Homo sapiens: one gene and its partner. The protein of the gene in region 2 purifies or fractionates together with the protein of the main gene of each other region. This does not show direct contact. Each region holds a gene or a part of one and is shown on either strand. Other genes may lie near its edges.

Region 1 (3,659 bases), about 130 Mb from region 2:
ATAGCATTTTATTCTTTACTGTAGTTAGGATTCATGTTTTAAAAGAATGAAAATATCCACATGACAGAAACCTAAAACTAACTGGGGGAATAAAGGGTATAGAGAGTTTAGAAAGGGATGTTTAAATTGTGTCCTCCTTAACATTAACAAATGTGTTCCCTTTAAAACTCTAGGTAATAAAGACATCACATGGGTAATGTTAGAAGCTGGTGCTGAGACAGATGTTGTCAACTCTGTGGGAAGAACAGCAGCTCAGATGGCAGCCTTTGTGGGTGAGATTTTGCTGCAGTTTTGCATTAGATTATACCCAAAATTTCCCTTGTGGAAAAAAAACCCACTTTGCTTCTCATGGTGAAAATATTATCATGTTGCTTTAAAAAAACTTAAGTATTTACAGTCCACTGTAACTTAATGAAACACCTAGTGACTCTGGAGAAAACAAATGGCTATTTCGAATTTCCACTTTTTCAAATACAAAGAGTAGTGGGGCCATTGTAATTGCTCACAAATGCTTATAACATGTATATTTTATGTCTCTGATGGAAGTAGCTAACCCTAATGTTTAAGAATGCTAACCGAGAAGTCAGTAATCCCAAGTTAAATTTTGGCTGTGCCACGTGATAGCAAAGTACTTAATAATTCTGACCTTCAGTTTCCTCATGGTAAAATGTTACAGGGTTATTGTGAGGATTAAAAGAGGTGATAGACTTGAACTTTCCATGTAACACTAAATAAATGGTATTAGTTACTGTTGTTAATAATTATTACAACAATGACATAACTCTTAGGAAAGAGTACTTGATAATAATATACAACTACTTCGTTATCATTCTCATCAACCACAGACGTTTATTTTGTGTGCCCAATAATTCTTGGCATGTTAATCCTATTGCTTGACATAATGTAAGGAAAGAGTGGGAGTGAATTCTTGTTCTTTGGTATTTTGACACCATTGAATTGGTGGTGAAGAGAGTCCACTGAGAGAAAAGCAAAGAGCAACGTCTGATTTATTGGGAGTGCAGTAAGTGGCCGTATAGGGACTAATAATTCATTAAACAAATAATGTTCACAACCTATAAAGCAAGCATCACTGTAGGTGTCTTGGTTATAGTGACAAGACAGGCTGTTCATACTTTCTTGGCACTTAAAGGGTAATAGCAATGACAAATGGTGCGAAAACACATACTCCAAGGTAGAACTTCAGAGCTCCATAAAAATACATAGAAGAGGAGGATCTGTCCAATTCAAGGGGGTTTTGAGAGAAGTCAGGTTCAGATACAGTGTAAATTAGGTGTGGAGGATAGTAACTGAATATTATGTTAAATTTTATTAGAACATTTTCTTGAAACTACTAATAGAAGCTGCCATTGATTAAGCCAGACACTCAGTTGCTTTATGACAGCTTTTTCTGTTAGAAGAAGTATCCTTATTTTCATTTCAAAAGGACTTGAGAAAGGTATGGCCTTGTGTAAGCTTCGGAGAAATATTTTAACTCCCGTGTGTACAGGCCCCAAGTTGCCCCATCTCAGTTCTGAGCTAATTTTGAGGGTGTCACTGCAGGGGGAAAGAACACTAAAGTAGGAATCTGGAGACTTGAACTTTAGTTCATGTGTGCTGATAATTAGTTATAGGATCACGGGCAAATTCCTTTACCTCCATAGGCCTCAGTTTTCTGATCTGTATGCAAAGAAGCAGGGGAATTAGGTGATCTCTGAACTTCTATTTAACTGTACAAGTTTTCATTATATCCACAATGTAACAAAATATTGCTCAGATACAGGTAAAAAAATTTCCCAAGATCACAGGTCTGGAAATGGAGGAGTCTCTTCTTTCAGGCATTAACACAATGCTCCTTTCTTTTTCTTAACACTACAATACTAACAAAATTTTTACTACAGTAAAAATTGTTTGCAATCCTATCCTAAAATAAGAGTAATGTTTTCATTCCATTTTAATATATTTAACTGATTTCACAGACAGAAAATTACATTGCACCCTTCCAGTTGTTACTGTATTTTCCAAATAATTAGCCTTTAAAAAAGCTCATTCTCCCCTTTTTGTTTCCTTCAAGTGGATCAGTATGTATACATGCGTACATACATACATAAGATTTTTGTCATTTTTTAAAAATGCCACCCATCACACAGCAGATATTCCTTGTAGCTTGTTTTCTTCACTTACTAATACATCATGGAAGTTCCTCCCATCTCAGTAGGTGTAATTCATTTCCTTCAACAGCTATATGATACTCCATGATATAGATGTTCCACAGTTCAGTTAGCTCTCCCTTATTGACAGATTTTACAGTTTTTTAACCACTTTTCTACAAATAATGTAATAATCATCCTTGATTTTCTATGTTTTACAAGTTAGTACTTGAATATTTTTTACATGTTAGAACTTTAATATCTCTAAAGTATTTCTTAGAAGTAAAATTGCTGAGACAAAGGATATAGAGTTTTTATTTTTATTTATTTATTTATTTATTTATTTATTTATTTATTCATTTATTTTTGAGATGGAGTCTCGCCCTGTCGCCCAGGCTGGAGTGCAGTGGCCCAACCTCAGCTCATTGCAACCTCCGCCTCCCGGGTTCAAGTGATTCTCCTGCCTCAGCCTCCCAACTAGCTGGGATTATAGGTGTGCGCCACCACGCCTAGCTAATTTTTTTTGTATTTTTAGTAGAGATGGGGTTTCACCATGTTGGTCAGGCTGGTCTTGAACTCCTGACCTTGTGATCTGCCCGCCTCGGCCTCCCAAAGTGCTGGGATTACAGCCACCACGACCAGCCTAGAGTTTTAATTTTAATGTAAGTCTAGATTCCTTTCCAAAAGGGCATAGTAATTCACAGTAATATCCTCATCAGAGCTGAGTATTACCATTCTTTGATTTTTGCCACTCTGATAGTTAAAAAGATGGTACATTGTGAACTTACTTTCCCCTCATTATTTATGAAATTAAGCACTTCTGTTGTTGGTAATTTGTATTTTCACTTTTGTGGATTACCCACTTATACTCTTTATTCATTTTTTTGTGGGGGGATGCCCTTTGTTATTGCTTTGAGGAGCTTTATGCATACAAATCCATTATCTAACAAATGTGTTTCAAATATTTTATGCCAGTCCTCCTCTTCCTCCTCCTCCTCCTTCTTCTTCTTCTTTTTATTCCTCTTCTTCCTCCTCCTCTTCCTCTTCTTCTTCTTCCTTCTTTCTTCTTCTTCTTTTTTAACTTTATGGAGACCTTTACCATAGGAAATTTATTTATTTATTTATTTATTTATTTTTTTGAGATGGAGTCTCACTCTGTCACCCAGGCTGGAGTGCAGTGGCATAATCTCGGCTCACTGCAACCTCCACCTCCTGGGTTCAAACGATTCTCCTGCCTCAGCCTCCCATGTAGCTGGGACTACAGGTATGTGCCACCACACCCAGCTAATTGTTGTATTTTTAGTAGAGATGGGGCTTAGCCATGTTGGCCAGGCTGGTCTCGAACTCTTGACCTTAGGTGATCGTCCCACCTCCCAAAGTCCTTAGGATTACAGGCATGAACCACTGTGCCCGGCAGGAAATTTATTTTTAAGTAGTCATATTTTTTCTTTTATAGCTTCCGTGTTTCTTGTTTTGCTAAAAGTGGGCCTCTTGACCAGGAGTTACATAAGT
Region 2 (3,659 bases):
CCAAAGGCAATCTGTGAGATAGGACACTAGAGGTCAGTGGTGAGAACAGCCACCTATTCACCCCACAGCCTGTGCCAGGCACCATGCAACCAGCTTCACTCATCAAGAAATGAGAGAGGATTTTTTGTGAGTGTTTTGAATAAAATAGTTGCCCTTACATTACTATTCACTCATGGAGAATGAGTCACTCCAAACTAATCTCAACTTCTTTTTCATATAAAAGCCACAGACCAATTATCTCGATTTAAATAAAATGATTAAAGAGAATCTCTACGATCTTGGGGATGAATTGATACTGTTACTGTTCAGGGAATTTTCAGCAAATTAAATATCCACATCTTAGGAAGGAAAAGGGTTGATTAATGACTGCAAGTTGGCAGGGAAATTTCTGGTAGCAAGTCCACCACACGTTCTGTCCTTTGCTCAGCCCTCATTAATTACTTAGATGAAACATGGGAAACAAGCTTATCAAATATGCCTGTGACACAAAACTGGGAGGGATATGTAATATGTGGGGCAACAGAAGCAATATAAAATTATCTCGCTAGATTGGAATGCTGGTGTAAAATCATTAACAAGAAATTTAAGTAAACCAAATCTAAGGTCCTATATTTACATTTAGGAAGCTTAGATAAGTGAGTCATAGAACAAAGGTGTGGGAGTGCTAGCTGATCACAAGCTTAATAAGGGCCATTTGTATATTTGCTAAAAGACCTGACTCAGCTTTAGGTACCCTTAGCATTATGTCCAAGTAAGGAAAGGCATAGTCCCGCTTTGTACCGCATTGCCCTAATCATACTGGGGACTATTCTAGTTTCAAAGAAACCATGATCTATTAGAGCATGGACAAAAGGGTGCAATCAGAATAGATCAGAACCAGGAAGGCTTCCTAATTGAAGGAGTGCAATCTTCAAAATAGCAAATTCTTCACCTCATGTTTTTCTACTCCCTATCTTCCTCATTACTCCACACTTCTTTCAGTTTCTTAATTGCACCAAGTTCCCTCCTAGCTCAGGACTTCCAGTCATTCTGTGCTCTTACCCTGGATAGCTGTTCTTCTTTGCCTTGAAAGAAATGTTTATTGTTCCTCCTGAGCCATCATGCAGCCCCGTCCTTCCTCGGGTAACAGCACCCATTTTTCATTTAGGGAATTGCTCCCTCATCACTTTTAGTGCATTGGTTTGAGTGGACTGGGCTTCACACAGTTGTGCTTAATTAATCTATTTTCCCCCAAACCTCCCCTCCACCACCATCACCAACACCTCCACTATCTAGTCCTTGGTCTTTCCTTAGATTCAACGATGTGCCTATGACCCGAATGTGTTCCCATGAGATGGAACATGGAAGGAATTGGCAGGGGGAAAGATGTTCTTTTAAAGCCTGCAGTTTTGCCTGGCACCAGGAGCCTCACAGAATACAACGTGAGTGGGGCCCTCGGAGCTGCGTGTTGCATTGCACATCCTCATTCTTTTTGGAGTTTGGAGCTTCTAGAAATGATCTCACAAACACGATGGGAGAGCTTGCCTTAGAAGAGAGGTCAAAAGAGAGCCGAACAGAGGAATGGATGTAATGTATAAGATGTGGATCTGCATTCTGGCCAGATACCTCTAAAGTTAGTTTAATTCTCTAAACTTCCCATTTATGAGGACTAACACATCCTCTTCCCCCTGTTTAAAAATCTGCAAGTCTGTTTGAGTTTGGTTTTCTGTCCCTGTAGCCAAGAGTCCTAATTGCTACTAACCTTGACCTTCATCCTTTTCCCTCCTTCCTTTTAACTACCTAGTTCTTGCTCACCTTTGGGTTCTCATCTTAAATGTTGCTCCCTCAGGAAAGCATGTCTTCACTTCCCAGTCCGATTCCTCTGTTGTATCCTCCTCTTAGCACCTTACATTCTCTATAGCACTTTTGCTGCTGTAATTTTACAGCTTTTTGTGAAGTCATTCACTTCATGCCCGTCTTTCCAACTAAACCGTCAGCTCCATGAGGGCACATATGGTGTCTGTTGTGTTTATGCTCATGTCCCTAGCTCCTAGGCATTTGTCAACACATAGCAGGGTCTAAATGATCATCATTAAATGAATGAAAAGTCTAAGGGAAAAATGATGGCTATATTCAAATATTTGAATGGTGCTTATATGGAAGAATGTGTTCTGTGATATATGAGAGGGAAAGACTGGCGCCAAAGAATGAAATTTTAAGAAGATAGGTTTTAGCTCAATGCGACATAAATGTCTAATAACAAAATCTTTAAAAATATGGGAAAACTCCCTTCCTCCCAACCTCTACCTGAATTTGCAAGATAATAAGGTACTAATCAGCATTAGAGAAGATATTGAATGACATTCTGACCAATAAATGATTATTATGTTAAGTAGGAGGTCAACTTGAGGGCCATTGAGGGTCACTTCTAATTCTAATATTTATCAGTCTATGGTGATATAAAGAAAAGATCATAGAGAAACAGGGATTTACAGAAGCAAATAGAAGATAAGATCCAAATTGAAAACTGGAATATACCAGAACAAGGTCACTTCTAGTTCCCACTGGACTCAAGGATCAATCCTAGGTCTACTTTTCCCCTGTGAGCAACAACCCCACCTCTTGCCACTATCGTCCATTTAATCCTCCTTCTGTCCCTTCCATTTATCCACATGTACCTCAGGTTTACACAAACCTCTTCTGAGGTGACAGCCTCACTGGGTTTTTCTGTGACTCTTTTAAGAATGATCCACCATAACATTTTCCACTTTGATTTTTCTCTCCAACCCCTGCTTCTTAGCAAGACTAACACAAATAAACTCACCTGGGCCCTCCAGAGCTCATCCCTCTCCTGGGCCACCCTCCAGTGGGTGTCGCCCATCATGGCGATGAACAAGTTGAGCATGAGCAGTGTGGCAATGATGGTGAAGGCGAAGTTGACAATGCTGAACATGAAGGGCAAGTCCACGTCGTAGTTGGCAGGTGCATCAATAACAGTGAGAAAAAGCTCAAAGGTGGTGAACAGTGCCATGGGGTAGTCATAGAATTGCCCCAGACTGGTTGGGTCCTCTGTCTGGAAAATGATATAGAACGCTGCTCCGCCCAGGAAGAGGACATGGAGATGGGATAATGGAGTTATCACAATAAGCATGGACATGGTTAGCACTTATTCTATCTCTGATCTATCTATCTATCTATCTATCTATCTATCTATCTATCTATCTAAATACACTTGCACACATGCACAGATAATTACATACTAATAAATGTAGTTTCCTGTGGAACTGTCTAACCCTAAGATGTCCTATGATTAAGTTCACCACTCTGGGTAATGGTCATGGTAATAGTCATTTAACAACAACAAAATTGTGTGTGCAGCGTGTGTGTTTGTATGGATAATGGATAATAGGTCACCTAACTGGTTTTTGCATTTTAGAAAACCAAATACTTAAAAGGCAAGTTATTACAAGAATGTATGGAATCCTCAACAATTTTTAAAGAACAGAACACATGAACAGGCTAAAAGAAGAGCCCCTTTTTTAATCTTGATGGCCTCTAGATAACCCTCCATCACTCTGACCTTCCCTGAGTGAACCTGAACCAACATAGGAAACGGATTCCTGCTTAGGGTGGAGCCTACTGGATAGCAGTGAGCGTAAGGGAACTTCAGGACAGCGCTG

What was found. Proteins that work in one complex are often made in the same cells at the same time.
Region 1: the proteins of TRPV5 (region 2) and ANKMY2 purify together in Homo sapiens (affinity purification with mass spectrometry; one large-scale study listed by BioGRID and IntAct). This does not show direct contact.

Annotation. Positions count from the first base shown.
Region 1 is NC_000007.14:16,621,596-16,625,254, reverse strand, and holds part of ANKMY2 (ankyrin repeat and MYND domain-containing protein 2), read left to right. Parts: intron 1-173; coding exon 174-272; intron 273-3,659. UniProt on the Homo sapiens protein: May be involved in the trafficking of signaling proteins to the cilia.
Region 2 is NC_000007.14:142,909,679-142,913,337, forward strand, and holds part of TRPV5 (transient receptor potential cation channel subfamily V member 5), read right to left. Parts: intron 3,073-3,659; coding exon 2,804-3,072; intron 1-2,803. UniProt on the Homo sapiens protein: Constitutively active calcium selective cation channel thought to be involved in Ca(2+) reabsorption in kidney and intestine. Required for normal Ca(2+) reabsorption in the kidney distal convoluted tubules.